4 linked regions of the Homo sapiens genome follow. The protein of the gene in region 4 interacts with the protein of the main gene of each other region in a pairwise test. Each region holds a gene or a part of one and is shown on either strand. Other genes may lie near its edges. The genes, in order: FAM161B, EFHC1, USP20 and TTC23L.

Region 1 (7,763 bases), on a different chromosome or scaffold from region 4:
AAAAAAAATACAGGGAAGCATTTCCTAAATACACTTTCCCTGAGAATGACAACAAAGTACCTTTATCTTGGTCAAGCCTTAGAAAGTAAATATTGAATGAGATAAAGTGTACATTATCTCATTACTTTATCTTATTTAATATTTACTTTCTCCTCCAATAACCTGGTAAGTAGACATTAATTTTTGCCACTCTACATAGGAGGAAATTGAGGTTTTAACAGAACTTTGCTCAAAGTTTGAAGCAAGATTTAAACCCAGGTCTGTCTGACTCTAAAGCTCTACTCTGCTCATTGTTCTCTCTCTCATATGAAATATTAGAGTGCAAAGTGGCAGTTCTTGGATCAATTCTGAGAAGAGACTTTCCATTAGGGCTGCCAGGATTGTCTGTGGGAAGGTCATGGACATAGAGGCCTGTGGGGCTGTGGTGTTAGGCTGAGCAGCCAGCTGTGACCAGTGGGAAGGGAGGACTGGGGAGGAGGTCTGGAGGGAGCAGGGCCTCCTGACTGCCCTGTCCTCCACTCACAGATCTGCTTTTTTCCCAGGTGTGGCTCCACAAGGCGCTGCAGCTCCCTGAACAACCTTCCCTCCAACATTCCCAGGCCTCAGACCCAGCCACCCTCAGGCTCCCGGCCTCCCTCCCAGCACAGAAGCGTCAGCTCCTGGGCATCATCCATTACTGTCCCTCGGCCATTCCGCATGACGCTGCGCGAGGCCCGGAAGAAGGCCGAGTGGCTGGGCTCACCTGCCTCCTTTGAGCAGGAGAGGCAGCGGGCCCAGAGGCAGGGTGAGGAAGAGGCCGAGTGCCACAGGCAGTTCCGGGCACAGCCTGTGCCTGCACATGTCTACCTGCCCCTCTACCAAGAGATCATGGAGCGCAGCGAGGCCCGAAGGCAGGCAGGGATCCAGAAGAGGAAGGAACTGCTCCTCTCTTCTTTGAAGCCCTTCAGCTTCCTGGAGAAGGAGGAGCAGCTAAAGGAAGCTGCTCGACAGAGAGACTTGGCAGCCACAGCTGAAGCCAAGATCTCCAAGCAGAAGGCCACCAGAAGGATTCCCAAGTCCATTCTGGAGCCAGCCCTTGGGGATAAACTCCAGGGTAAAGACATCCTTGCCACCTTGCTGCCTCCTGCCTCGGGGAACCAATCCCACCATAGGGATTTAGTCAGGGCCCAGGGATCTGCCTGGCTTGGAGATTTGCTGCTTGGGTGGACCCACTAGAGGCTGCACGCTTAGTGCAGGCCATTGGGGAGGGTTAGGTCTGTCTATACAATCAGGACCTGTATGGTGCCAGGAGTGAGAGGTCCCACAGTGTCCCCAAGGCTCGTCCTGTTGACATCTAAGTGAATGCACATGAGGGCCTCTGCACCAGCACAGGTGCAGGAATAGAGAACCAGTGAGACACCTGAGGACCAGCTTGGGCTCATGCCACCACCAGCACACTGCCCTGAGATGCTCCCCCATGGCTCCTTCGTCCTGGTGAGGTAGTGTCAATCGCCGAAATTACCTGGGGGATGATTATTTACACATTTCCAAAAGTATAGCTCCAAATAAGGGGCTCAGGCTTTATTCACTTTTCGGTAGCATGTGCCATGCTCCAGGCACTGTGCCATGGTGAACACACAGACATGGAGTTTGTAGATATGTGAGGAAAACAGATAAAGACAAATACATACAAATGTGGCGAGTTATTTACAAGGATTAAAAGGGGAAGCATGGGAGCATATATCAAAGGGACCTAACCCGGGGATTGGTGAAGCAAGGGAGCAGTTAGGGAAGGTCCCCTGAGAAAGTGGGCCCTGGGGCTGAACTGAAGGAGGGGCGAAGAGGGAGGAGAAGTGGAGCAGGCAGAATGTGGCATGGAGGGGAGAGAAAGCAGAGCATCTGCAAGGGATGGAAAGGTCGAGGGCTGAGAGAAGAGGGAGTGGGAAGGAAGAGGCAGGCATGGGCCAGACATGAGGAGCTTTGCAAGCCACGTTGGCGAGTCTGGACTTCATCCCAAGGGCACAGGGAAGCCACTGAGGGAGTGAGGCAGGGTGGCCCATGATCAGAAATATAGTTCAGAAGGATCCTTCTGATTGCTGTATAGATAATCTGAGAGGGCAGCAAGACTGGAGGGATGTTGAGCCAAGAGGAAGCTATTTCACAATTCAGTAGAGAAATTGTGCAACTGGTTGCAGGGATGAAAAAACGAGGATGGACTGGAGAGAGGTTAAAGAGGAGGAAATGACAGAACTTGTGACTGATGAGAGACACGGAGGAGTCAGTGATGTGGGCAAAGGGCCTGGGCAGCTGGGTGGATGGTAGGGCCTTTCTCTCAGATGGGGAAACCTGGGAGAGGAGCAGGTTACTGGCCCACTTCCTCTGCTTCATCTCTGAAGAAGCAATCATAGAAAGTGCTCAGTAAGTGTAGATGGTCACTGCTTCTGCAGCCTGATTGACACAGGCAGTGGTGTTCTGGATGACATTTATTAACAAGCTCTCCAGAAAAAAAAAAAAGGAAGCTGGTTTGTAATGTTTGTTATTTTCTGTGGCATAATTACTCCTATTCAGGCCATCTGCAGGCATCTCACAGGATGTTAACGTGTCAGAATTCCTGAAAAGTTCCTACTTGCCTCCAGTAACACTTACAGCTAGTGTGTAAAAGAGGGAAAGTTCTCCAACCCTGTAGGTTTCTTGCTTGGTCCTTTCTTACCCATCACCATCCTTTCTCCACAGAAGCTGAGCTCTTCAGGAAAATTCGCATCCAAATGAGAGCCCTGGACATGCTCCAGATGGCCTCTTCCCCTATCGCCTCCTCTAGTAACCGGGCTAACCCACAGCCCCGCACAGCCACCCGAACCCAGCAGGAAAAGCTTGGGTTTCTGCACACTAACTTCAGATTCCAGCCTCGGGTGAATCCTGTGGTCCCTGACTATGAGGGCCTTTACAAGGCCTTCCAGAGAAGAGCAGCCAAAAGAAGAGAAACCCAAGAGGCCACTCGCAACAAGCCCTTCTTGCTGAGGACCGCCAACCTGCGCCACCCTCAGCGGCCCTGTGATGCTGCCACCACCGGAAGGAGGCAGGTGAGAGCCCAGGCAGCTGTGGGAGGGTCAGGGCTGCGGCCTGAAATACAGGGTGGGGCCAGGTCTTCCTGGAAAGCACTTCTCAACAAGGTTTTCCTATCTTTTTTTTAAACACCAGCTCAGTTGTAAGCAGATTCACTTTCCTATAAACTCCAGACCACAGCCCAGCCTGGGCAACAGAGACCCCATCTCTAAAAGAAAAATACAAATATTTGCCACATGTGGTGGTGTGTACCTGTAGTTCCAGCCATTCAGGAGGCTGAGGTGGGAGGACCTTCTGGCTGCAGTGAGCCAAGATGATGCCACTGTACTCCAGCCTAGGCAACAGAGTGAGACCCCATCTAAAAACAACAACAAAAAACAGGCCAGGCGTGGTGGCTCACGCCTTTAATCCCAGCACTTTGAGAGGCCGAGGAGGGCAGATCATCTGAGGTCAGGAGTTCGAGACCAGCACGGCCAACATGGCAAAACCCCATCTCTACTAAAAATACAAAAATTAGCTGGGTGCGGTGGCGGGCACCTGTAATCCCAGCTACTTCAGAGGCTGAGGTAGGAGAATTGCTTGAACCTGGGAGGCGGAGATTGCAGTGAGCTGAGATTGTGCCACCGCAGGCCAGCCTGGACAACAAGAGTGAAAGTTCATCTCAAAAACAGAACACAACAGAAACCATAGGGACACTTCTTTTCCTCCCTTACTGTAGAAGGATTTCACAGAAATAAGTCCAAGCAGGCTTGAGAGGCAAGGAGTTGGGATCAGTTGTTGATGTCTCTATACCAATTCCAAGGAACTCTTCTCATTTGACTAAAAACTTTAGGATTGATATCCAAGTCTTGGCTTGGTTGTGAAACTTGAGATCTCTTTATCCTTGCCTTATTCCCAGGAAAAAAAATGAAGATTCTCATTTTCAGTCCTTCAGTGAAGCTGAATCCTAGTAAAGATAGAAAATGGCTGGGCGCGGTAGTTCACACCTGTAATCCCAGCACTTTGGGAGGCCGACACGGGTGGATCACCTGAGATCAGGAATTCGAGACCAGCCTGACCAACATGGTGAAACCCCGTCTGTACTAAAACTGCAAAAATGTAGCTGGGCATGGTGGCTCACAACCTGTATAGTCCCAGCTACGTGGGAGGCTGAGGCAGGAGAATTGCTTGAACCAGGCAGCTGGAGGTTGCAGTGAGCCGAGATTGCGCCACTGCACTCCAGCCTGGGCAAAAGAGCGAGACGAGACTCTGTCTCAAAAAAAAAAAAAAAAAAAAAAGATAGAAACTAATCACACATGCTGTCCCACCAATACCAACCTTTGTTTCTTCTAGGATTCCCCACAGCCACCAGCTACACCCCTGCCAAGGAGTCGTTCTCTGAGCGGCCTTGCTTCCCTCTCTGCCAACACTCTCCCTGTGCACATCACAGATGCCACCAGGAAGAGGGAATCTGCAGTCAGGTGAGTGGTCAGGCTGCACGAGACCCATGCTCTGATTCTGGCCCCAAATGCTGGAAACCTCCCTGCCAAGGGGCCTCCTTTCCTGTTATCAGAGATACCTCAAGGGGTCAAAGGGAATTTTCTGATCAGGACTGGAACAATTGCGGTTCTCCACACCTGGTGCTTGGAGAACAGCTAGCCATCATTCAGCACATATTCATAGTGGGCTTATTCTGTGCCAGGCACAGTGTTAAGGCTGGAGATCTTAGGGAACCTCCAGTTTATTATCTAGTCTGAAATACAGAAAAGCAAAGAAGCAATGGCCATATTTTTTGAGTAGTGCAATGATGGGGGGTAAAGGGGACTGTGAGGGCACTGGGCAGCCTGGAGCAGGGGGGTCTTGTCTTGTGGAATAGATGTCTAAAGTGAAACTGAAGAACAAGGAAGAGTTCGCCAGACAAAGCCTGGAGAGAAGGAAGGTTCCAGACAGAGAGAACATGGATAAAAGCCCATGGGTGAGAGGAAGGGAGTAGTGAGGAACAAGAATTCAGAGAAGCATGCTAGCAGGTGGCTGAAGTTGCCGCAAATATGAGACATCCATTGCATAGATTTGAGATTCTCTGAGATTCATCTTGGGAAGATGTCAGAGTCTGTTGGGCAGCAAGAGCCTGCTTATTTTTAACTCTTCAACTGACCTGATTCTGTTATGATGTTCTCATTAAGCCAGCCCCCAGCAAGGGTTCTTCCACCAGGCTTCTGAGCTGAAGTAGGCAAGAGAGGTCATGGTGTAACAGCAGCTTAGGCCAGGGAGAGGACTAATGTCTTACTGCCTTCCCATGGGGCATGTAGGGGAGTACTCAGAACCTACTTGGATCGTTAAGCCCCACAGCAGGGATTGTAGAAGAGTATTTACGGTCCAAGGGATACTCCTTTCTTCTTCAGACTTCAGTTAGACCTACTAAATCAGGGCTAATTAATTGCTCAGTATCCTGAGGGCCCAAGAACACAGGCCTCCTGAACAAAGAGGCTGGCCTTCCTATAGAGGACATCCACATCTGCTTTCCAGCCACAGGGAATCTGACATATTAACAGATTAAATTTTCATGTCCTTCTTCCCAGTATGTCCATTTGAATATAAACATCCAAATATAAGAGTCTTGGTTGATTTTCCTTTTGGAAGAACTCAACATATTACTTTGTAGATAACTGAACAAACTAAGTGCTACAAGTTGAACCCAAATAGTCTGCACTGAGGGAGGCTCATTTCCAGTTCTCTCTGAATGTGCAGATTTGTATTCCCAAAGGACCATGAACCCAGACACCTTCCAGCCCACTGTTTCCAGCAGAGTGGTCAAGGCCAGAGGCTTCGGAGTCAGAGGTCCTGGTCCAATAGGGGCTTTTCCACTGGCATGCTGGGTAGCTTTGAGCAAGGGGCTTACCTCCTTTGAGCCTCAATCACCTCCCCTATAAAAAGGGAATTTAGTATTTACCTCATAAGGCAGTTATGAGGACAATGTGAAATGTAATGGTACTTGGTTCATAATAAGGAGCTCAGTAAATGGTAGCTATTAGTATTATTTTGTATCCAGATAGGCGAAGACCTATTGAATGTTGGACTGTTTAAGTAAGGATATATATATTTTTTTTCGAGACAGAGTCTTGCTCTGTCGCCCATGCTGGAGTGCAATGGCGCAATCTCAGCTCACTGCAACCTCTGCCTCCCGGGTTTAGTGATTCTCCTGCCTCAGCCTCCCAAGTAGCTGGGATTACCGGCACGTGCCACTACACCCAGCTAATTTTTTTTGTAGTTTTGGTAGAGACAGGGTTTCACCATGTTGACCAGGCTGGTCTCGAACTCCTGACCTTGTGATCAGCCCGCCTCAGCCTCCCAAAGTGCTGAGATTACAGCCATGAGCCACCGTGCCCGACCTAAGTAAGGATATTTTAACTGACGTTTCTCCAGTTCAGTAAATGCACTTCTAGGGTAGGAACTCACTGTGTCCCTAGTGCTGGAAAGGCTTCATCTGCCAGTGCATTTAATCCTAGAATTTTATTATTTTTAAAAATGGCAGTTGAGGTAAATTACATGCCCCATTCATTAAAAACACCAACTTACTTTCCAGAAAAGGTTACTAAGATTGCTTTATTTTATTTATTTATTTATTATTATTTTTTGAGACGGAGTCTCTCACTGTCGCCCAGGCTGGAGTGCAGTGGCACGATCTCGGCTCACTGCAAGCTCCGCCTCCCAGGTTCATGCCATTCTCCTGCCTCAGCCTCCCGAGTAGCTGGGACTACAGGCGCCCACCACCGCACCCGGCTAATTTTTTGTATTTTTAGTAGAGATGGGGTTTCACAGTGTTAGCCAGGATAGTCTCGATCTCCTGACCTTGTGATCCGCCCGCCTCGGCCTCCCAAAGTGCTGGGATTACAGGCATGAGCCACCATGCCCGGCTATTTTATTTTATTTTATTATTATTATTATTTTTGAGACGGAATTTGATCTGTCGCCCAGGCTGGAGTGCAGCAGTGCGATCTTGGCTTATTGCAACCTCTGCCTCCCGGGTTCAAGCGATTCTCTTGCCTCAGCCTCCCGAGTAGTTGGGATTACAGGTGCACACCACCATGCCCAGCTAATTTTTGTATTTTTAGTAGAGCTGGGGTTTCACCGTATTGGCCAGGCTGGTCTTGGACTCCTGACCTCAGGTGATCCACCTGCCTTGGCCTCCCAAAGTGCTAGGACTACAAGTGTGAGCCACCACACCTGGCCTAAGATTGCTTTTCAGTATACCCAGGTTGGTAATCTATACTCTTTTTCTGCCTCCTTCCTTTAGAAGTGCACTTGAAAAAAAGAACAAAGCAGATGAGAGTATTCAGTGGCTGGAGATACACAAAAAGAAGTCTCAAGCAATGTCCAAATCTGTGACCTTGCGTGCAAAAGCCATGGATCCCCATAAAAGCCTGGAGGAAGTGTTCAAAGCAAAGCTGAAAGAGAACCGGTCAGTGTCCTCTATGTGTCAAAAGGGGTGCTTGCCTTGGGATCCAACAGACCACTGGCCTATTGCCAGAAAATGCAAAATAGAGTTATCGAGGTAGGTAGGCTCCTGTAATCACAGCAGGGTCATGATTTTCCAAGTCAGATAGGAATTTACAGTGTACACGAGAGTTACACTGCTTTACTGGAAATGAAGGGTATTCTGGATTAGAAAAGATGAAATTCTTTCTAAAAGTCTTGCTAATTCCAGGAACAATGACCGTAAAAGAGCGAAAGAATATAAGAAA
Region 2 (7,763 bases), on a different chromosome or scaffold from region 4:
TTCCTCAACACCTCATCTGCTTCCACCTTCCCACTTCCTTACTATCAATCCAGTCAGACTTCTGCTTTTCCATTGCTGGTAATTAATTACTGCAGACCTGGACTATTGAAGGGGCTTCCAGTCTGATTGCCATGCCTAGTACTTCCTCCTCCATCATAGCCTGCATACTGCTGCTGGGTTTCCTTCCTCTGCTTCTGTTATTACCACTGCTTAGAAGCCCCCCTTGTATCCTCTGCTGATCTAAAATCTTTCACTCTTCAAGTCTAATACATCTTTTGTTTCCTCCTAGTTAAGCTTTCTCTGACCACTTTAGTCCACACAGATTCCTTCTTGGAACCACGATAGCATTTGTTACCTGAGAAGTAGCAAGATGTGTGGAGAGAATATTGGGTTGTGAGTTAATAGTCTGAATTTCAGTTCCAGTTCTGGCCCTAACCCCTTACATGGCCTCAGGCACGCCACCTTACCACCCTGGGTCTCAGTTTCCTCCTTTATAAAATAAGTGGGGTTGGGCTAGCTGATCAGTTCAGCTTTAACATTTTATGTATTTATAAATATATGGCTCAGATACAGGCCATTTTATATATGAATTACTATGATCATGTCCCCCCTTTCAGTTCTTTGCAGTTGATCTAAAATGTTACTTCAACATTATCTGTCCTTTGCTTTTACCATGTTATTTTTCTCCTTCAAACATTCCACTGCACTTATCCATTTTATCTTTTTATTATGAGTTTTAAGGCCTTCATTATATTCACATTTCTCCTATGCACTTGTATGCACTTGCCAGTTCTCTTGGTTTTTATCTTGTTTTTCCACAGTAGTTACGCTACCCATTTTTTTTTTTAGCAACAGTGTCCGTGTATAGAATTATTTCATCTTTCCATTTATCAAGCCATATTTCTGTTTCATTTAGGATCTTCTTGATTTGTTCCTCTTATTCTAGTAGAGGCTTGGGTAAACTATCTTGCCTGCTTAGAATCCCATTCTAATACTTTCTCTCCTTGAAAAGACACATTAAAAACAGAGACAAAATAACAGAAATTTAAAAATCCCAAAGCATGTTAACATATTCTTTTTATAATATTGTTTTATGCTTTTTATTTTTTATTTTTTTGAGATGGAGTTTCACTCTGTCACCCACGCTGGAGTGCAGTGGCGCTAACTCAGCTCACTGCAGCCTCCACCTCCTGGGTTCAAATGATTCTCCTACCATAGCCTCCCAAGTAGGTGGAATTACAGTTGCCCACCACCAAGCCTGGCTAATTTTTGTATTTTTAGTACAGACGGGGTTTCACCATGTTGGCCAGACTGGTCTCAAACACCTTAACTCAGGTGATCTGCCTGCCTTGGCCTCCCGGTGTGCTGGGATTACAGGCGTAAGCCACCACGCCTGGCATAGTTTATGTTTTTTAAATGTGTAATCTATATATTGATACCATGTTGACTTCACATTGATGATGATGCTCCCCAGAGGACCAATGGTTTGCTCAATGTAATATATATGTTCCTGAGCACAAGGAGGGTATTTACACACGTTTTAGAGATTGTATAGCGGATTGATGATGAGGGTATGTACACACCCTTCAAAGATTCTGTAGTGGATTGATGATGTGAAAGTCATTCATATAAAGTTTATAATAATGAACGTAATTAATATACATTTACAAAGGACTACACTTCTAAAGAAGTGCAATTAACCCTTCATTTTCAGTTTGAAACCAAAAATCGCAATCTTATCCAAGATTTTTTACTCTTCCCAGAAGTTCTGGGAGGGACTTTTGACATGGAGGTGAAGCTAGTAGAGTTAAGTCCTTTAAGATGTATTCTCACCAAGGAACATATGCAATAAATAGTTTATACACATTGTGAGTATTTAAAGCAGATGTCAGCAAACTTTTTCTGTAAAGGGCAGTTAGCGTATATTTTGGCCATTGCAGTGGTTTTAGCCTGCGTAGTCTGCCACAACAAAATACCACAGATTGAGTGGTTTAAATAATAGAATTTATTTTCTCACAGTTCTGGAGGTTGGAGGTCCAAGATCAAGGTGCCAGCTGGTTTGAATTCTGGTGAGGGCTCTCTTCCTGGCTTGCATACAGCGGTCTTCTTGCTATGTCTTCATGTGGCCTTACCTTGGTGTGTACATGTGGGAGTTAGGGGAGGGAAGTAACTCTCTTTCTCTTCTTCTCTTCTAAGGCAACCAGTTCTATGGGATTAGACTTAAAGGTGGCATACCTCTATCCTTAAGATCTGGTTTAACCTTAATTACCTCCTAAGGATCCTGTCTCCAAATATAGTCACATTGAGGGTTAGGGGTTCAACATATGAATTTTGGGGATGAGGGGGACACAATTTAGTCTGTGTATCTCTGTCACAACTATTCAACTCTTCCCTTGTAATGGGAGAGCAGCTGTTAACAAAAAAGCGTAAATTATTTACATAATTATTTGTGGATTGAAAATTTAAATTTTTATAATTTCCATGTGTTATGAAACATTTTTTAAAATTTTTTAAACCATTTAAATATGTAAAACCCACTCTTAGCTTGCAGGTCATAAAAAAAACAGGTGGCAGGTTAGATTTGTCCCATGGACTATAGTTTGCAGTATCTGTAGTTTTAGAGTATCAAGATTTACAGGATAGAAGTGATGAGTGTTAAAATCTCCCTGTGTGGTTCTGTTTTCAGGAAGGTACTTGATATTTTTCAGATGACTATGACAAGCTAATAGTACACCATTTCTCCTTTCCTTGTATGTTATAGGTACTGAAATTTGATGCCTATTTCCAAGAAGATGTTCCTATGTCAACTGAGGAACAGTATAGGATCCGTCAGGTGAACATTTACTATTATCTAGAAGATGACAGCATGTCTGTCATAGAGCCTGTTGTAGAAAATTCTGGAATCCTTCAAGGCAAGTTAATAAAACGCCAGCGGCTAGCCAAGAATGACCGGGGTGACCATTACCATTGGAAAGACCTAAATCGAGGAATAAACATCACAATTTATGGCAAAACTTTCCGCGTTGTTGACTGTGACCAATTCACACAGGTATAGCATATATTTTTGAAAGTTGTGGGGTCTGAGGCATCATTCTAATTTATAGAAGGATACATTTCATTTATTAGGGTAAGGGGAGGACATTGGTAATCTGTCCTGCATGAATTATTATGAATGGCTAGGTATTTGCATGTGTGTATGTGCTAATATGTGCCAACACTAATAGTAACATAATTTTTTCAGAATGATATTAATACTTATTCACTCAAAATCAAACTCTCATCATAGCTGAATAATTTGGTAAGAAACCAGGTTAAAATGGCAGTTCAAACAGGGAGTAGGGGAATAGCATCCCTGCTGGGATGTAAGTATGGAAGAGGGATTAAACGTTTTATCTTAAGTGTGAGTTTACAAAAATAGCACTACTTCTATTAGCAGATATGAGCCTAAAATTTTTTGTGTAGCTCATATATTTTTGGTAAATGATACTTGCTATATTCTAGGAAAGCTTACCATCTAAAGAATTTCTGAAATGAAACCATTTTTAAATGAAAAAACCTCTTCTATATGTAAAAAGTCCTCTATTTCGTAAGTTTGGATTTTTTAATACAAAGGAAACTTTTATTAAAGTTACATGCATAGAGGATATAGGTGGCCTTTCTTTACTACAAAGTGTAGGAATTAGGAAGTCAATTCCAAATTTGTCTTAGTTAAAAAAATATTTCTAGCAGCAAAGATATAGTTTCTGAAGTATTTTATGTCCCTATTCCAGGATACCTAGTGCCATATGTGACTAATTTTTACCATGCACTGAGCTCCTATGAATCCATTATTGTTTTCATTTAGTAGTTTGTTTAACAGATATTTATTTGCATGCCTGCTTTGTTCCATGCACTGTTCTAGGTGCCAGATGTTTTCAGGAAGGTACTTGATATTTTTCAGATGACTATGACAAGCTAATAGTGCACCATTTCTCCTTTCCTTGCATGTTATAGGTACTTGCCCCTATAGAGGTTCCAATCTTGTTGGAGGAGATAAGCAATAGCAAATAAATAGATTGGTTATATGTCAGATGATGATAACAGCAATGGAGGAAAATAAAGCTGAGTAAAGGGAATGGAAGTTGAGGGGCTCTTTATAGAGGCGGATCAGAGAATGCCTCAGTGATAAGATGACATATGAATAGAGGCCTGAAGGAAGTAAAGAAAGGAGCCATGGCATCAGTGCCATTCCAAAGCAATAGAGAAAAATAGCTTCAAAAGTAGAGGTGCTAGACCATCTTTGAGATATTCTCCCGTTCCAACATATTTTTATCTCTTTGCTTTTTAGGTGTCTGAGGTCTTATATATCATAGGCAGTTTCACAATTGTACCAACAGTGAGAAATGATAAAATGTTATCTAAACATAAATGTATTAACAATTATTTTTACAGTTGTGTTTTCATAACAATTATTTTTACAGTTGTGTTTTTATGGGCAATTTGAACATTTGCAAGTTAATCACTGAGCGTTTGACCTAATCTATTTATAGTCGGTTCTCATTATTGACAGTAATTAGGACTATAAAGTCACCACAAACACTGAATTAGTGAATACTGAACCACTAGTCTTAGAGGAAATACAGGGTTAGGTTCCCACTAATCTCTGGCCACATTTTTGTCAACTGATCAATACATAAGTTTGATTCATGTATGTTTCTGTTTAAAGACACCTTATTTAATATATACGGTTGATTCATTAACATTAAACTCACACCCAACAGCACTATAACTCACGTCTGAACAAAGCTTATCTAAGACATGCATTTTCTCCATGAGGTGTGTTACAGCCTTCTTGTGCTTAGGAACACTAAATAGCACTTCATCACTAGGCACTGGGACCCTTTAAACAGCAAAATCACCAACAAAAAACACAAAAATGCAAAAAATCTGGCACCTTCATGTATATGTATATGTATGTGTATATGTATCACATTTTCTTTTTCCAGTTTACCATTGATGGGCATTCAGGTTGATTCCATGTCTTTGCTATTATGAATAGTGCTGCGATGAACATACTTGCGGGTATGTCTTTATGGCAGAATGATTTATATTCCTTTGGGTATATACCCAATAATGAGATTCCTAGGTCAAATGGTAGTTCTGTTTTCAGGTCTTTTAGGAATCACTACACTGCTTTCTACAATGGTTGAACTAATTTATACTCTCATCACCAGTGTATAAACATTTCTTTTTCTCCACAACCTTGACAGCACCTGTTATTTTTTTACTTTTTAATAATAGCCATTCTGACTGGTGTGAGATGATATTTCATTGTGGTTTTGATTTGCATTTCTCTAATGATAGTGATGTTGAGCTTTTTTTTCATATGGTTATTGGCCATGTGTATGTCTTCTTTTGAGAAGTGTCTGTTCATGTCCTTTGCCCACTTTTTAATGGGGTTCTTTGCTTTTTTTCTTGTAAATTAAAGTTTCTTATAGATGGTGCATATTGGACCTTTGTCAGATGCATAGTTTGCAAATATTTCTTTCCCATTCTTTAGATAGTCTTTTTACTCTGTTGATGCTTTCTTTTGCTCTGCGGAAGCTCTTACGTTTAATTAGATACCATTTGTCAATTTTTGCTTTTGTTGTGATTGCTTTTGGTGTCTTTGTCATGAAATCTTTGCCCATTCCTATGTTTAGAATAGTGTTGCCTTGGTTGTCTTCCAGGGTGTTTATAGTTTTGGGTTTTACATTTAAGTCTTTTATCTATCTTGAGTTGATTTTTATATCTGGTGTAAGATATATGGCTAGCATATGGCTAGCAGGTTATCCCAGCACCTTTCCCCATTGCTTATTTTTGTCAACTTTGTTGAAGATCACATAATTATAGGTGTGTAGCCTTATTTCTGAGCTCCCTATTCTATTCCATTGGTCTATGTGTCTGTTTTTGTACCAGTACTGTACTGTTTTGGTTACTGTAGCCCTGTAGTATAGTTTGAAGGCAGGTAACATGATGCCTCCAGCTTTGTTCTTTTGCTTAGAATTGCCTTGACTATTCAGGCTCTTTTTGGGTACCATTGAATTTTAAAGTATTTTTTTCTAGTTCTGTGAAGAGTGTCACTGGCAATTTGATAGGAATAGCATTGAATCTGTACATTGCTTTGGGCAGTATGGTGACTGTAAAGATATTGATTTTTCGTATCCATGAGCATGTAATGTTTTTTCATTTGCTTGTGTTATCTCTGATTTCCTTAAGCAGTGTTTTGTAATTCTCATTGTAGAGATCTTTCATCTCCCTGGTTAGCTGTATTCCTAGGTATCTTATTCTTTTTGTGACAGTTGTAAATGGGATTGTGTTCCTGATTTTACTCTCAGCTTGGCTGTTGTTGGTGTATAGGAGTGCTAGTGATTTTTGTATGTTGATTTTGTGTCCTAAAATTTTGCCGAAGTTGTTTATTAACTTAAGGAGTTTTTGGGATGAGGCTCTGGAGTTTTCTAGATATAGAATCATGTTTTCTCCAAACAGGGATAGTTTGACTTTCTCTCTTCCTACTTGGATGTCCTTCATTTCTTTCTCTTGACTGATTGTTCTGGCCAAGACTTCCAATATTGTCTTGGATAGAAGTTGTGGAAGAGGGCATCCTTTTCTTGTGTCAGTTTTCAAGAGGAATGCTTCCAGCTTTTCCCTGTTCAATATAATGTTGGCTGTGGGTTTTTCATAGATGGCTCTGATTATTTTGAGGTGTGTTCCTTTAATACCTAGTTTATTTATTTATTTATTTTATTATTATACTTTAAGTTATGGGGTACATGCGCACAACGTGCAGGTTTGTTGCATATGTATACATGTGCCATGTTGGTGTGCTGTACCCATTAATTTGTCATTCAATTAGGTATATCTCCTAGTGGTATCCCTCCCCACACCCCCCACCCTATGACAGGCCCCAGTATGTGATGTTCCCCACCCTGTGTCCAAGTGTTCTCATTGTTCAATTCCCACCTATGAGTGAGAATATGCAGTGTTTGGTTTTCTGTCCTTGCGATAGTTTGCTCAGAATGATGGTTTCCAGCTTCATCCATGTCCCTACAAAGGACATGAGCTCATCATTTTTTATGGCTGCATAGTATTCCATGGTGTATATGTGCCACATTTTCTTAATCCAGTCTATCATTGTTGGACATTTGGGTTGGTTCCAAGTCTTTGCTATTGTGAATAGTGCCGCAATAAACATATGTGTGCATGTGACTTTATAGCAGCATGATTTATAATCCTTTGGGTATATGCCCAGTAATGGGATGGCTGGGTCATATGGTATTTCTTGTTCTGGATCCTTGAGGAATCACCACACTGTCTTCCACAATGGTTGAATTAGTTTACATTCCCACCAACAGTGTAAAAGCATTCCTATTTCTCCACATCCTCTCCAGCACCTGTTGTTTCCTGACTTTTTAATGATCTCCATGCTAACTGGCATGAGATGTGTGGTTTTGATTTGCATTTCTCTGATGGCCAGTGATGATGAGCATTTTTTCACGTATCTGTTGGCTGCATAAATGTCTTCTTTTGAGAAGTGTCTGTTCATATCCTTCGCCCACTTTTTGATGGGGTTGTTTTATTTTTTCTTGTAAATTTGTTTAAGTTCTTTGTAGATTCTGGATATTAGCCCTTTGTCAGATGGGTAGATTGTAAAAATTTTCTCCCATTCTGTAGGTTGCCTGTTCACTCAGATGGTAGTTTATTTTGCTGTGCAGAAGCTCTTTAGTTTAATTACATCCCATTGG
Region 3 (7,763 bases), on a different chromosome or scaffold from region 4:
TCCCAGCTACTTGGGAGGCTGAGGCAGGATAATCGCTTGAACCTGGGAGGCGGAGGTTTCAGTGAGCTGAGATTGTGCCACTGCGCTCCAGCCTGGGCAACCGAGTAAGACTCCATCTCAAAAAAAAAAAAAAAAGAAAAAGAAAAGAAAGGAGTCTTCTGCGGGGAACTAGATGGCCAGGTGTCTAGGAGGGCTTTTCCTGGTGGGAGGGTTGGCTTGAGTAAGTGAAGCCTCATCGCCCGGGTGCTGTTGAGCTTAAAGAACCAGTAGATGGATCCCATTCTCAGCCTTGGCTGTGTTATTTTGGGCTGAATTATTCTTTATTGTGGGGCCGTCCTGTGCATTGTAGGATGTTTAGCAGCATTCTTGGCCTCTACCCACTAGTGCTAGTGACAACCAAAATGACCTCCAGAGATTGCCCAGGGTCCCCTGGGGTGCAGAGTACCCTCCCTGCCCTGGGTGAGAACCACTGGGCTCTACAGACTGCCCAAGATAAAGCAGGAAGTGAAAACCAAGGTGCAAACCAGGACTCAAGTGTGACTGTGTTTAGAAGAGGGACTTCTGTGAGGGAGCTGAGTGCAGGCGAGGCTCCTGGCGCACTCCCTCCCTGCCACGCTACTTCTAACAGGGTTAGGACGTGTTCCACTCACAGGGAGGGCCTGGTGAGAGACACTGAGGGACGCCCGTGCTTTGTGGCCATTAGGAAATGATTCTGCTGCCTGGGCATGGTGGCTCACGCCTGTGATCCCAGCACTTTGGGAGGCCGAGGCAGGTGGATCACTTGAGCCCAGGAGTTCAAGACCAACTTGGCCAACATGGCGAAACCCCATCTCTACAAACAATACAAAAATTAGCCAGGCATGGTGATGTGTACCTGTAGTCCCCGCTACCTGGAGGGCTGAGTGAGTTGGGAGGATCACCTAAGCCTGGGAGGTTGAGGCTGCAGTGAGCCGTGATCATGCCACTGCACCGCAGCCTGGGCAATAGAGTGAGACCCTGTCTCAGAACACAAACGAAAAAGAGACTGTCAGGGCTGGGCCTAGTGGTATGCACCTGTGGTCCAACCTACTCAGGAGGCTGAGGTGGGAGGATCACTTGAGCCCAGGAGGTCAAGGCTGCAGTGAGCCATGATTGCGCCGCTGCACTCCCGCCTGGGCACAGAGTGAGACCACCCCCCATCTCGAAAAAGAAAATGCTCCTGTCAGAAGGAGAGCTGCCTCTCTGAGCAGATAGGCACATTCTATTCAACCGGAGAAAATTAGCATCTCCCAGGCCGGGCGCAGTGGTTCATGCCTGTTATCCCAGCACTTTTGAGAGGTCGAGGTGGGCGGATCACCTGAGGTCAGGAGTTCAAGACCAGCCTGGCCAACATGGCGAAACCCCGTCTCTACTAAAAACACAAAAAGTAGCCAGGTGGTGGCACACACCTGTAATCCCAGCTACTCAAGAGGCTGAGGTGGGAGAATCGCTTGAACCTGGGAGGCAGAGGTTGCAGTAAGCCGAGATCGCGCCACTGCACTCCAGCCTGGGTGACAGAGTGAGATTCCTTCTCAAAAAGTAGAATCTCCCTTGTGGTCTCAGTTGGGTCAAACAGTTATTGAAGAGACCCACAAAATGTTACCACCGTCCTCTCTGAGTGATGGGTGTGTTCATTTTGTTTGAGCTTGTCTGGGGGTTTGATTTTTCACCTTGAGTATCTGGTGTTTTTGTAAGACTCTTGGGTGAGGGACTGGGGCGGGGGCATTTGGGAAATCCTTGCTGAAGGTAAATAGAGACTGACCTGCCCTCTGTCTCCTCCCGTCCCTGCCCGCCTGCCAGTTGAACAAGGCCTTCCAGGCCGAGGAGTCGCCGGGCGTCATCTACTGCATCAGCATGCAGTGGTTCCGGGAGTGGGAGGCGTTCGTCAAGGGGAAGGACAACGGTGAGCTGAGGGGGGACCTGGCACTTACCTGCCCTGGGGGCCTCCTGGGAGATGGGATGCTGGCAGGGGAGGGCTGGCACACAGGGGCTCCTGCAGGCCCCATGCCTGCCCCCAGGTGCCACCCATCCAGGGTGAACAGAGAGCATGGGGCTTTGCCAGTCCCCAGTGGGGATCACTGTCCCCACCCAGAGGCAGGAAGCTGCTCCTGCTCTGCGCCCCCTGCCCTTCTCCACTCCCTGCCATGCCCAGCAAGCTGCTCTGCCCTCCTGCAAGGCCCTTTCCTCAGGGGAGTGTGTCGCCCGAAATGACAGATTTGTCATCTGACTCCTTGGATTTACAGAGGTGGAGACAGGCCCCATCACAAGCTCCCAGGGTCCCCCAAGTCCCCAGTGAAGAACAGCAGAACCAAGCCATGGAAGCCCACAGGCTCTAAACTATTAAACCTGCATTAAAAATTTCGGCTGGGGCGCCCTCGGGGCATAATCTAACCTGTGGCTCCGGGGCCCGGCAGGGTGGGTAGAGCCCACGGTTCTGCTCACGGGACCCTTGGTGTGGAGCATGAGCACCCACCTGTGCTTGGGAAGGGAGGCCTCATTGCCATCCCGCTAGTCGGGGAAGGTGCCAGGGCCACCGTGAGGCCTCTCTGGTGGTGGCTGAGGCCTTCAGCATGGCTGTGGTTGAGAATGTAGCTCCGGAGCCCTCGCCCTGGCCTGGACGCTGGCCTTGCCTTCTACCAGCTATGACCTGAGTGGTTACTTCACCTTCCCAGGCCTCGGCTCTGTCTCTGTAAACCTCTGTCTTGTCCTGTGGTTGCCGAGGCTAAATGAGATAGCTGGGCAGAGGGGAAGGGGCGTGGTGAGCGGCAGCTGCCAGCAGAGATAAGGGCATGGGCCATCCACCGCAGCTCCTGCGGCCAGCACAGAGTCTGAGACCATCTCGTGTGTCCTGGAAATTCCCTCTGCTGGGTCCTCAGACTGCCACAGAGGAGCATTGGGTGGCTCAGGCGCCTCATCCATTAGAGACTTCACGCTGACCCCCAGGCCTGGGGCGGCCCCACTTGGGATGGCTCTGCTGCTGTGGAGGGTGGAGGGCATGGCAGGGGCTGAACCCGAGCCCGCTGTGTCTGTTGCAGAGCCCCCCGGGCCCATTGACAACAGCAGGATTGCACAGGTCAAAGGAAGCGGCCATGTCCAGCTGAAGCAGGGTGAGTTCCCCCTGGGGTCAGCCAGGCTCCTCTCTGCCCTTCCTGGCTGCCAGGCTGCTGCCCAGTCCCGTCCTTCCAGGAGCCCCCTTACCACCTGTCTTAGAGTCAGGCTGAGACGTCCACCTGAGTCCAGACCCAGGCGGCTGAGAGATGGCCCAAGGGGCTTGGTCTCTGCTTGTGTCCTCCAGGTCCCACCCCTCTGCCTGCTGCTGGCCTTGCCCACCCTGCTGTTTATGTCAGCCCCACCCCCAGGAACAAGGGACACAGCCAGAGATGTGTTATCCGGGGCCCTTAGCGGGATGGACATTCCTCTGGGAAATCCTGATTTCCATCTGACAGCTTTGCATAGAAGCCCTGGTTGCCGTCTTCCCGCTTCGGGGCCTGGCCCTGCGGAGCCCCCACTGCCCAGGCCGGTGGCTTCCTTGAGGAGGCAAAGGTGAGCCTAGGGGTGCCTCTCGTGCCCTGCAGGAGCTGACTACGGGCAGATTTCGGAGGAGACCTGGACCTACCTGAACAGCCTGTATGGAGGTGGCCCCGAGATTGCCATCCGCCAGAGTGTGGCGCAGCCGCTGGGCCCAGAGAACCTGCACGGGGAGCAGAAGATCGAAGCCGAGACGCGGGCCGTGTGATCTGCTGGGCTAGTCTGTAAGTCGCCCCGGCTGGTCCCTCCATGGCACTCTGGGTCCTCTCCTCACTCTCCAGAGACCCTCACATGTCCTTTTGAACATCCAAAGAGCAGGTCCCTGAAAGCACCTTCCTGGAGGATGTGGGAGGGCCCTGGACATGGCCCGGCCCCACTGCTGAGTGCCCGTGTCCCCACAGCCCCATGTGCCCCACCCCGCGGAAGGCGTGTTTGTGCCCAGAAGAGAGGCCGGGCTGCTGCAGAACCCCGCCGTGTAAAGAGGCAGAAAAGTTGGTTTGGTTTGCAGTAACGCTGCAACTAGAAAATATATGCACTTCAGGCTTGTTGAAACGACCAAGACTCTGTGACGTTAATTTGGGTCTTTGTCCTGGCAGTGCCTCTGCCAGTCACTGTCATCGTTGTGTCCCCCACAACTGTCCTCTTGCTAGCTCGGCCCAGCTTTGTCCCTGGAGCCCGATGCTACCCCTGTCAGACAGAGGCTGCGGCCTGGGCCAGAGTCAGGGAGTAGCTGCTGCTTCACGGCGTCTCCACTGTGCGATTGGCCCGGAGCCCCGAAGACTCGGAGGGAGCTGCTCAGGGCCGGTGAGCGCAGCCAGAAGCCCTGGCCAGTGAGGAGCTCACAGGTCCTCCCTGGTGGTCCCGCCGCACCTCTGCATCTCCTGGGCGTCACCAGGAAGGCTCTGAAGTCCCGGGCTGCTCTCAGCACTTCTCCTGCAGACTGAAGACTCTGGACTCATTGCTGATTGGAACACCAGGAGGAGGTTGGATTTCTGCCAGTGGGGGATGTTTCTGGAGGCAGCTGGTCCCCCACACCGCGTCCTGCTGAGCCTGCCCCCTGGATTGGCTGTAATTTGCCTCGAAGTTCAGCAGTTCATCTTCATGGGAAATTTGCTGAGCCCCCACCAGGGAACCGGATGATGAAACAGGGATACCTCACAGCTTGGCCATTTGAGGCAAAGGCAGCTTCCCGAGCTGATGCTAAAGAAGACAGACTTTCCCTTCCTCCCAGCAGCAGCAGTGCAGAGCCCACCTGGAGGGATGTGGGGGCTGTGCAGGGTGCAGCGCTCAGGTGGATCCTGGGAAGCAGCCTCTGGATGCTGAGTGGAGGGAGCCACTGAGCACAGCAAGGCACCAAAGCCCCTGGAGAAACCGCCAGGGCGAGGTGCGACCATCATCAGGATCAAAGCAGACGGGGCGTGGGTGGGGAAGGGGCTCTGGGACCAGACCCCCCACACTACTGCGTCTTTGTTTCTATCAGTCTTTGTAGAAGCAGGTGGTGGTGGAAATTCCAGCAGGTGGGTCCCGCAGAGGCCCTGAGGCCTCACTTTTCGGATCTTCTGTCCCAGATCCTGCTCCCTCCCTGCTGAGCCTGGGGTTCCCCTGGCATTGGCCCCAGCCTTCTGAAAGCCGGCGCTGCAGCCAGAGGCCGCACGCTGCACTGTCGCGACGCAGAGAGGCTTCTGTGCAGGCTGGGATCGGGCCCCATGTCTGTGCTGTCTAGTTTGTGTTCAAAATGTCAGAATAAACACAGAATAAATGTTCCCACGGCCACACAGTCGTCTCTCCTTCACTGCAGTTCTGTTACTGGAGGGAAGGTGAGGCTCTCCGCCACGCGGACAGCCCGCCAAGCCCTGGGGCTCACATTGCACATCACCAGGCCCAGGAGGGGGCTTTCCATGTGGCTTTCTGAAACCAGAGACCACCTGGAGGCTGTGGAGGTGAGCAGAAGAGGGGACCCAGCTGCTATAAAGGCCTATTGGCATCTCCTTTCCTGGAATCAGCCCCAGCCTCAGAGAAGTAGGGCCAGATGTGGCCAGTGATTGAGGCCAGCACATCCCACAGGCTAGTCTCCCTCCAGCCACCCAGACAGGCGGCTCCAGAGTGGCCGTGAGCAGGGGGTTACCTCCCCTTTGCACACTGGCCCTGGGCGTTCAGCAATACTGGTGTTCAGTAGTCTGAGTTTTTTGTTGGGTCTCATTTTGGGGGAGAGAAGAACTTGAGATTTTTATATATAACTTATCAACATTTATTTGTGAAATCCCATTGTTGCAGGAAAAAGGGGTTCCGATCCAGACCCCTAGAGAAGGTTCTTGGATCTCATGCAGGAAGAAACTCAAGGTGAGTCGCAGAGTTCACTGAGAAGAGTTTACTGAAAGCTGCTCAGGTACAGAGTAGAGCGTCCTCAGAAAGCAAGTGGAGGGATGCCCGTCGCTGTTTTCAACTCCTCTTATGTAGGGGTCTTAGCTATAGAAAAGCTACGCTGTGTCTGTCAGGTGGGCTGACAGCCTGACACAGTGGATTGCTCTGTTGATTTAAAGAAAGCCATCCTTGGCATCTTAGTGCATAAGCACATCGAAGCCTCACTGTGGTCATCTTCAAGCATACACTGTTGTGTGGCATCTGAACCTTCTCCATCGTAGGAGTTTGTCCTCGCAGGCGTTACGTAGCTGCTTCCTCAGACGTAAACATCTTAGGTTGTGACTGGCCTGGACTGTGCCTAATTTTTTGTTTTTTGAGATGGAGTCTCGCTATGTTGCTCAGGCTGGGGTGCAGTGGCACGATCTCGGCTCACAGCAACCTCTGCCTCCCAGGTTCAAGCGATTCTCCTGCCTCAGCCTCCCAAGTAGCTGGGATTACAAGCATGTGTCACCACATCTGGATAAGTTTTGTATTTTTAGGAGAGACAAGGTTTCACCATGTTAGCCAGGCTGGTCTCGAACTCCTGACCTCAAGCGATCTGCCTACCTCGGCCTCTCAAAGTGCTGGGATTACAGGTGTGAGCCACCGGGCCCAGCCTCCCTTGCTAGTTTTAGGTGGAGCCGAACTCAAAATGATGTCACCCTGGCTCCCCTAGGCTTCTGCTTCCCTGCCGCTATCAGATACGAGCGTACAGAAACATTTCAGCGTATGCAAGGATAACACGGTGACAAGGAACCAAGATGACACATTGCCAGTTCCATGGAAAGCCTGGGGCCCCTCCGGAGTCGGCCACCTTGCCTGACCCCAGAGGTGGCTCTTTGCATGTGGTTCCCTCATCCCGCCTTTTTTTTTTTTTTTTTTCCTGAAAAAAGCTTCATTTTATTATTATTTTTTGAGACAGAGTCTCACTCTGTTGCCCAGGCTGGAGTGCAGTGGTATAATCTCAACTCACTGCAACCTCTGCCTCCTGGGGTTCAAGCAATTCTCCTGCCTCAGCCTCTGGAGTAGCTGGGTCTACAGGCATGTGCCACGACGCCTGGCTAATTTTATTTTTTATTTTATTTATTTTTAGTAGAGACGGGGTTTCACGGTGTTAGCTAGGATGGTCTCGATCTCATGACCTTGTGATCTGCCTGCCTCAGCCTCCCAAAGTGCTGGGATTACAGGCATGAGCCACCACACCCGGCCAAAACATCATTTTAAAATTGAGCTTTCTGACTGTGCTCCTGCCCTTAACACCTTCCCAGCAACTTTCTGCTCCTTGATGAGGAAGGCACACTTGATCCTGTCGGGAACACGTTCACACAGAAGCACCAGATGCACTGCTGATGGGTTTTTTGTTTGTAGACAGGGTCTCACTGTGTTGCCCAGGCTGGCCTCGAACTCCTAGGCTCAAGTGATCCTTCTGCCTCAGCCTCCCAAAGTGCTGGGATTACAGGCGTGAGCCACCACGCCTGGCCGCTTGCTGACATGTTTTTGCTTTGGGGCAGTCTCATAGGAGCTTTAGGTCTCACAGCACAAACCCCTCGGAGTCAGCCCAGGCCCATGCCATGTGCAGACTTTGGCAGTTTCCCAATCTTGGTATAAAGGTAAACGATTCTCTTCCCAGGGGTTCGGGCCGGCCTAGTGCTGTTAGAGGCTGTATTCTAGGAAAGCCTATGACGGTTTGGGAAACTGGGCCATGCTGAGTGCCTGTAGACAGCGTTCCCGGAAGAGGAAAAAGCAACCTTTGTCTTTATGTGGGAATCTCTAAGCAATATTTTTGGCTTTGTTTACATTTGAAGGTTAGATATGTG
Region 4 (7,763 bases):
GGAAAAAATGGTAAAACAAAAAACTCACTAAAATTTTGTTTCCATTTAAAAATATGTTCCTGTTTAGAGAAGCTTTGCCTTCGATGCAGATTGAAGCATATGAAATAGAGGAAGGTGTCATATTTCTTTGTAAGTAGCAGAAAACAAAGCAGAGCCTACTTAGGTAGCCAGCCCACCTTCTGGTTCCATGCATGGTTCATTGTCTGTTCCTCCTTGGGGCATTTCTGGTCCTAGCTTTAAACTAAAAATTAGGCCAGGTGCAGTGGCTCATGCGTGTAATCCCAACACCTTGGAAAACCGAGGCGGGAGGATCTCTTGAGGCCAGCGTGAGTAACATAGTGAGACCCTGTCTCTACAAAAAAAATTAAAAATCAGCCAGGCATGGTGGAGGGAGCCTGTAGTCCCATCTACTTGGGAAGCTGAGACAGGATAGCAGCTTGTGCCCAGGAAATTGAGGCCACAGGGAGCCCGTGATTGTGCAACTGCACTCCAGCCTGGGTAACAGAATGAGACTGTGTCTCTAAGAAAATAAAGTAAAAATTTGAAAAACCTAAAAATTATCATTTGATTGTTTTTGTTGCTGTTACCTTTAACTTAAAATTAAAAAAAAAAATAGCTGGGCGTGGTGGCTCACACCTGTAATCCCAGCACTTTGGGAGGCCAAGGTGGGCAGATCACCTGATGTCAGGAGTTCAAGACCAGCCTGGCCAACATGGTGAAACCCCATCTCTACTAAAAATACAAAAATTAGCCAGGCGTGGTGGCGCATGCCTGTAATCCCAGCTACTTGGGAGGCTGAGGCAGGAGAATTGCTGGAACCCAGGAGGCAGAGGTTGCAGTGAGCTGAGATCATGCCATTGCACTCCAGCCCGGGCCGACAACAGCTAGACTCTGTCTCAAAAAAAAAAAAAAAATATATATATATATATATATATATACACACACATATATATACACACACATATACATATATACGTATATATACAAATACATATATGTGTGTATGTGTGTGTGTGTGTGTGTGTGTGTGTGTGTGTGTGTGTGTATCCATCCTGGAAGGTTTCAGGATGCTATCTCTTAGGTAACAAAAAGGCTGGGATAGTAAGGCAGGAGGTTGAGAACAGGTAGGCAGGCAGGTCTAAGCTCTGGCCTGGAAAGGATATGGGTAAGATGCCCTTGGTTACAGTGGAATCATAAACAAACCAAAGGGCCAGAAACAGAAGGTAGCAGTGGAGGTCAAAGATTCCAAATATGCATTTCTAAGAGCAAGTCAAAGACTTGAGTCAAAGATCTCAGAGCAGGTTTGTAAGCATGAGTATTCAAAATCCAGGAGACTGAGACAGCAAGACGTCGACTCTCATTATTAGAACACAGGCACCAGCCTGCTTCCAGAGCATGATTTATCAACAGAAGAGCTTGTACCTTGACTTCCTGGCTCCTCCTAGCCAAGGGGAAAAAAGTAATCTAGAGAGGTTTCATTTTCTATCATTTGCCTCTGAAGTATCTCTCTAGATGGATATTTGTAAATTTATCTCTGTAAATGACCCAAGGACCTTGCAAAGGACAGTCATCCTGGCCTGGACCCATTAGTGATTCACAAATCCAGGCTAGAAGGATCATTTCTAAAAACACACAAGTACCATCTGCCATGGAGTGTAAGTGGGGGTTTTCAAGGCTTAAAAACTCCTTGGCCAGATTGGATAATGACAAAGATTTAGATCTTAGGAGAGAAATCTGACTCAAATCCCAAGCTCATCAAATTGTATAAAGTGAACAGGTGCAGTTCTTTGTATATCAGTTATAGCTCAATAACGCTGTTTTTTTTTTTTTTTTTTAAATCAAACCCAACCTAGTACTCCTAGCCCTGAAGGGCAGGGGATGCCACATCAGCAGCAGAAGTGCTGGGATGACATCTGGAGCCCGTATTGGTTGTCCCGGTTTCTCCAAGTCAAGGAGTTCGAGGATGAATATACAATGTCCAGAGCCAAAGCTTTGGTCTCCCATTCCAGTGATTTTTTCATGGCATGATGCTTCTTCCTCGAAAGAGAACTTAGTATTTGCTGTGGTCAGCCCATGGTGAACTCTAAAAAATGCTGACTAAATGGATGTTTTGGAAGCATCAGGGGAAGTTTCCTTCTACCATTGCTTGCTTCTGTATATTTGAGCAGGGGGCAGGTAAAACATGAAGTTGGGTAGGAGATAGGAATCAGTAAGGAGTGTATTCCTTGGAATAACCTATGGTACTGCTGTATCTTATCTAACATTACTCTTTAAATGGGTTACTTTGGTTACCTGTACATTATTCTTCAAACGGGTTACACTTAGATCTGACCTAACAACACTGAATCATTTGGACACTATTTTTTTTTCCTTACAGTAACTCCATGAGGTAGATGGTACAGGTTTCCAAACCTCAGAAAAGGAAGCTGAGATCAAAGTGGCCTGCCCCAAAGCAACACAATCAGTAAACAAACATTAGAACCAGGGCTGAAACTTTAGGTTTTTGGTTCCTTGAAGTGCTATTTTCACTTAACCAGGAAAAAAATGCCTGACCCTATCGACTCGTTCAGCCAATAATGGCTGTGTTTGTAAAGTCACTGAAATATATGACTTGAAGATACAGTTCGGTGATTTCTTAGAGAGCTCTACCTGTCATTTCTATAGGGGTAGAGGATTATTTTCCCCAACCCATCTTTAACCTTGCTAATAAATGATTCATTCAGCAAATATTGAATGTGTTACACCTGTGTGTACTGGGCAGATAACAGCGAACATGAGGAATAAACTTCTGTCCTCAAGGGACTTATCTTCTATTTGGGGAGATAATAGACAAACAATAGTAATAGCTAATAAAATATTAGATAGAAGTAAGTACTATGAAGAAAAAGTAAAATAGGTAATGGGATATTGAGTGATGAAGTGGTGTCTATTTTAGATAAGGTGGCCAAAAAAGGCCTGTTGATAAGAAAAGTGAAAATGAAATGAGAAAGTGAATGACATGGAAGAGTGTCCCAAGCAGTGGGAGCAGCACGTGCACAGCCCTACATTGGAAGTTAGCTGGTGATGTTCAGGAACCGCTGGTCAGTGTAGTTCTAGCAGACAGAGTAGGAGGAAAGGGTGGTAGAAAATGAAGTCCAGAGGTGATTGGCATTGGGTCAGATTATGCAGAGCCTTGGAAGCCATGGTGAGGACTTTGAATTATATTAAGAAGAAAAAGCGGGAAGCTGTTGGAGGATTTTGAACAGGAAAGTCATGATCTAATTTATATCTTAAGATATAAACACATAAAATACGTTTTAAAATCCATAAGTTTCTAATAATAATAACAAGCTATTTGATCACAATTAGAGGATGCTAGTGAACAATTCATTTTTCTGAAAGCTAGTAAAGGGCAAGAATAAACCATGTGTCCTGCCTTTCCAACATGAACTGTACTATTGGGTAACCAAAGAGTGGAGGAGGAGAAATTCTCCTTACAGAATTATTCCAGCTAATGTATGAAGAAGGAATGATAGAATTAGTATATTTGCATTTTATAATCTTTTGTTAATTTTCCATGTAGTTTTCCTAATATCAGAGAAAAAAAAGAAAAAACAACCAGATAGTAGATGTATTCTGCTGGAAGAACATACCAGTAGCCATGAAGTCGTTTTGTAAAAAAAAGAATTCAAAGCTGAAATTAACCAAACTTCTAAACCCAACTACTAATATAAAGGCAGAACAGAGAATGGAGGGACATGATGAGACACCATGAGGACGCAGTCATCAAAATTTATGTCTGTGGGAAATACTAGACCAAATGACTCAGCTTTTTCAAATAATTCGTAAGAAAAAGAACTAGAGATGGAAAAGTAACCTATAGATGAAAAGAGACTGATCTCACAGTGTGGACAGTCAAACAAATTATTTAAAAAATTCCATTTCTGTGATTAGATAAGGAATTATTGTTAATATTTTGGTGAGATAATGATTTTGTGGTATGTTTCTAAGTCCATATCTTTTAGAGGTATTTACGAAATGTTAACAGAGGCAACAATGGAATGTCTGATTTGCTTCAATTTAAGGTGAGGATGGGTGGATGAGGGGTCTAGATATGAAACAAGATTGGCCAGGAGTAGATCACTGATCACGCTACATATTCATTTTTCATGCTGTCTGTTTTGTATATTAATAAAGTTTTTCATGATAAAAGGTTAAAAGAAGTCACTCTGGCTATTATGTAGAAAGTAGACTGTGAGGGCCAGAGAGGAAGCAATTGGAAGGGGCTGCTGTGGCCAGCCAGGTCAAAGGTGAGGGTGGCCTGGACTAGGTACTCATGGCAGAAATGAGGAGAAGAGCTTGGTTTTAGGATTTAGGGGGAATGTGGATCCAACCAGACCTGATGGATTAGACACAGGATGAGAAGGAAAGAGAAGAGAAAAAAGATGACAGGTGAATTCAGTCCTGTGTTCCAGTGATAAGTCCATGGGGTAGAGACTTCTCTTCCTTTCCAAAAAGTATAATCACTTCTGTACTCTACAGAATACTCAAGCAAACAAGGAGCTGATTCGATGTGTCATCCTTTCTCGGATTATTTTTGGGGACCATCACTGGAAATGTGCACGAGCTCTGGCCAACCTAGCTTATGGCTACTTGACACTGAGAGGTACTTGGTTTTCCCAGCTGGGTTTGGGTGGCCAGCCTCTGAAGGCTGAACTGACCCACACAACCTCAGTGAGGATGGGCATGACTAGGAGGGCCCCTTCTTGCCCCTAGCTCACACATTATCAGGAAGGAAAGTCCATGGATGAGGGAGACAGTGTGCAAGGATCTAAGTAATAAAGATAATAATGATGATGACAGTTATTGAGTATTTAGCATGTGCCAAACTGGTCTCATTAGTCCTCACAATATTCCTTGGAGGGAGATACTATTAGTAACCTCAGTTTATGGATGAGGACACTGGAGCACAGTGGGCAAAGGGCAGTATCAGGGGTTCCAGCCGGAGGACAGTAGGGGAAGGACAGGCAGGGATGTACACTCAGCATCAGGGAGGCAGACCCAATAATGGGACTTGAATTCCAAAGGTAGAACTCAAGTTCCTGGAAGGTTTGGCTTAGTGAAAGGTAGGACCCTCATCCTAGAGAAATGGTACTTCTGGAAGGTACTCTAGTATAAGAGAATAAGACAAGAATCTATTTGCTAAAACTGAACCCAAGTGAAAGTTCCTTGAGAGTAGAAAGTTTGTAGTACAGGCTGAATAAATATTGGGTGATACACTGAGGCGAGAGCGCATTTCAGGAACCAGGGACATAGCCAGCTCAAGACTCTCTGTTCCTTGACCAGCCATGTCCCCCTGTGTGGTCTGCATACATTTTCACCGTGGAACTCATTGTACTGTGCTCATATATGCTTTAAATGCTTCTTCCTCTGACATAGAAGCTCCCTCAGGGCGGGACTGGTCTCATTTGATCTAGAACAGTCCTTTGTACACAATATGGTTTGGCATATTACTGCTTATGAACTGAGCCACTGGCCTAGGGGTTGTTCAAGTACCTCTGGGACCTCAGTCTGAAGGGGGGCCTAACTTGTAATACAAATTAAATGCTTTATGGGCTTAAGTGATTTGAAGGCTACAGGAAAAGGGAAGCAATATATTTGGGCCATAATGAGGCTGGATATCAGCAAAGCTTTTGAAAAAATTAAAATTGAGTTCACTTCTCAGTTATTGATCTCAGAATATATTCTCCTTCTTAGGGCTCTATAGGCCCTTTTACACCCATTTATTTTTAATGCAACTTTAGATTCATTTATTGATGTGGCAAGATCACAGGTAGCTGAGATCACAGCATTAGGACAGTGATGCTGTGGGTCACAGTGGGGGCACAGCGAGGCCCTTTTATGCTTTAAGAACACGTGTTGTGTTCTGAAAGAAGGTGCTATGGCTAGGGAGAGGAGAATGTCCTTATGTACTGGCAGAGCAGGCAGCCACCTCTATGAAATTTCAGAGTGACCAGGAAGGATCTTCCCCTAGTGGCGTTCCGTGCTTCCTTACTTGGAATCTCTCTATTCCCATCAGACTGATTTTCTCAAAAACTTACTGCCTTCATGATAAGAGTCAAATTTAGGGATTTACTCCTTCAGTACTTATGGAGTTCTTGTTATAAGCCTGGTGGCACTTGCAGTCAGTGCTGGGGATACATAAATGAATATTGGTGGTCCCTATGCTCTAGGAGCACACAGGGGTCTTATGATAGGTACCATTCTAGAGGTAGGAACAAAATTCTGGGGAGGCAGTTCAGTGGTATTGCCATTGAGGAAAGTCAGGGAAGGCTGCCGAGAGAAAGTGATATTTGTCCTGTCTTTGAAGAATGAGAATAGGTTTATCAAGTAGATTTTTTTACTTTTTATATTTTTATTTTTGTAGAGATAAGGTCTTTCTACGTTGCCCAGGCCGATCTCAAATTCCTGGCCTCAAGTGATCCTCCCACCTCAGCCTCCCAAAGTGCTGGGATTACAGGCGTGAGCCATGGCACCTGGCCCCCAAGTAGATTTTGAGGGGAGAAGTAGAGAGTACAAAGTTGGTCCTTTATATATGTTGATCTAAGGCATAGGAAGTGAGAGGAGGGCACTCTGTATAAAACTCGTTACACAGAATATTGTAGCTTCTCTGTAGACCCAGGGGGTTAAGGTAGGACGGAAGACACCTTAGGACAGACAGCTCATGTTTGGAAATGGGACTGAAAAGGTAATTTGGGCCCAGATATCAGGGAGTGTGGAGAGTTATTAAAAGGTTTGAAGTGAGGTGGTAATAATCAAGCTTGTGTTATAAAATGAGAGACTCCAGGATGGGTTGGACTGGGTAGAGAAAGAAGAGGCAAAGACCAGTTAGGCCGTTATCCTGCCCAGATGAGAGTCGATGAGGGCATTGGGTATGGCAGTTGGAATGAAGAAAGATAACCTAAAATGTAGAATGGGTGACATTTAGTGCCCCATTCAGTATGGAGTGGGAAGGACAGGGAAGAATTGAAGTTGAAGTAGGCATGACCTGGACAATTAGCTTAAATCGAGAATGAAAGGGAAAGACCAAGTGGTGGGGTGTATTAGTCTGTTTTCATGCTGCTAATAAAGACATACCCAAGACTGGGTAATTTATAAAGAAAAAGAGGTTTATGGATTCACAGTTTCATGTGGCTTGTGAGGCCTCACAATCATGATGGAAGGCCAAGGAGGAGCAAAGGCACATCTAACGTGGCGGCTGGCAAGAGATCATGCAGAGGAACTGCCGTTTATAAAACCATCAGATCTCATGAGATGTATTCACTATCACCAGAACAGCATGGGAAAACCCTGCCCCTGTGATTGAATTACCTCCCACTGGGACCCTCCCATGACACGTGGGGATTATGGGAGCCACAATTCCTGGTGAGATTTGGGTGAGGACACAACTAAACCATATCATGGAGGAAGGGGGAAGAAGCTACTGAGTTTGGTTTCTGAAAGCAGGTCTAGAGCTCAGGAAAGATGTTAGTCTGGGAGAAATGAGCACATAGGAGCAAGTTGAGGCCATAGGAGTGGATGAGCTTGATCAGAAGTAGTGTGTAGTGGCTGGGTGTGGTGACTCATGCATGTAATCCCAGCACTTTGGGAGGCTGAGGTGAGTGGATCACTTGAGGTCAGGAGCTGGAGACCAGCTTGGTCAACATGGTGAAACCCCGTCTCTACTAAAAATACAAAAATTAGCCAAGTGTAGTGGTGTGTGCCTGTAATCCTAGCTACTCGGG

What was found.
Region 1: the proteins of TTC23L (region 4) and FAM161B interact in binary tests that used the Homo sapiens proteins (3 or more experiments, as listed by UniProt).
Region 2: the proteins of TTC23L (region 4) and EFHC1 interact in binary tests that used the Homo sapiens proteins (3 or more experiments, as listed by UniProt).
Region 3: the proteins of TTC23L (region 4) and USP20 interact in binary tests that used the Homo sapiens proteins (3 or more experiments, as listed by UniProt).

The regions. Positions count from the first base shown.
Region 1 is NC_000014.9:73,937,665-73,945,427, reverse strand, and holds part of FAM161B (protein FAM161B), read left to right. Parts: intron 1-542; coding exon 543-1,093; intron 1,094-2,712; coding exon 2,713-3,059; intron 3,060-4,374; coding exon 4,375-4,502; intron 4,503-7,315; coding exon 7,316-7,480; intron 7,481-7,726; coding exon 7,727-7,763.
Region 2 is NC_000006.12:52,435,543-52,443,305, forward strand, and holds part of EFHC1 (EF-hand domain-containing protein 1), read left to right. Parts: intron 1-2,761; coding exon 2,762-3,049; intron 3,050-7,763. UniProt on the Homo sapiens protein: Microtubule inner protein (MIP) part of the dynein-decorated doublet microtubules (DMTs) in cilia axoneme, which is required for motile cilia beating.
Region 3 is NC_000009.12:129,876,520-129,884,282, forward strand, and holds the end of USP20 (ubiquitin carboxyl-terminal hydrolase 20), read left to right. Parts: intron 1-1,818; coding exon 1,819-1,921; intron 1,922-3,053; coding exon 3,054-3,125; intron 3,126-3,593; coding exon 3,594-3,754; 3' UTR 3,755-3,770; exon of another isoform or gene 3,771-3,947; 3' UTR 3,948-5,309; downstream 5,310-7,763.
Region 4 is NC_000005.10:34,845,664-34,853,426, forward strand, and holds part of TTC23L (tetratricopeptide repeat protein 23-like), read left to right. Parts: coding exon 1-10; intron 11-4,521; coding exon 4,522-4,645; intron 4,646-7,763.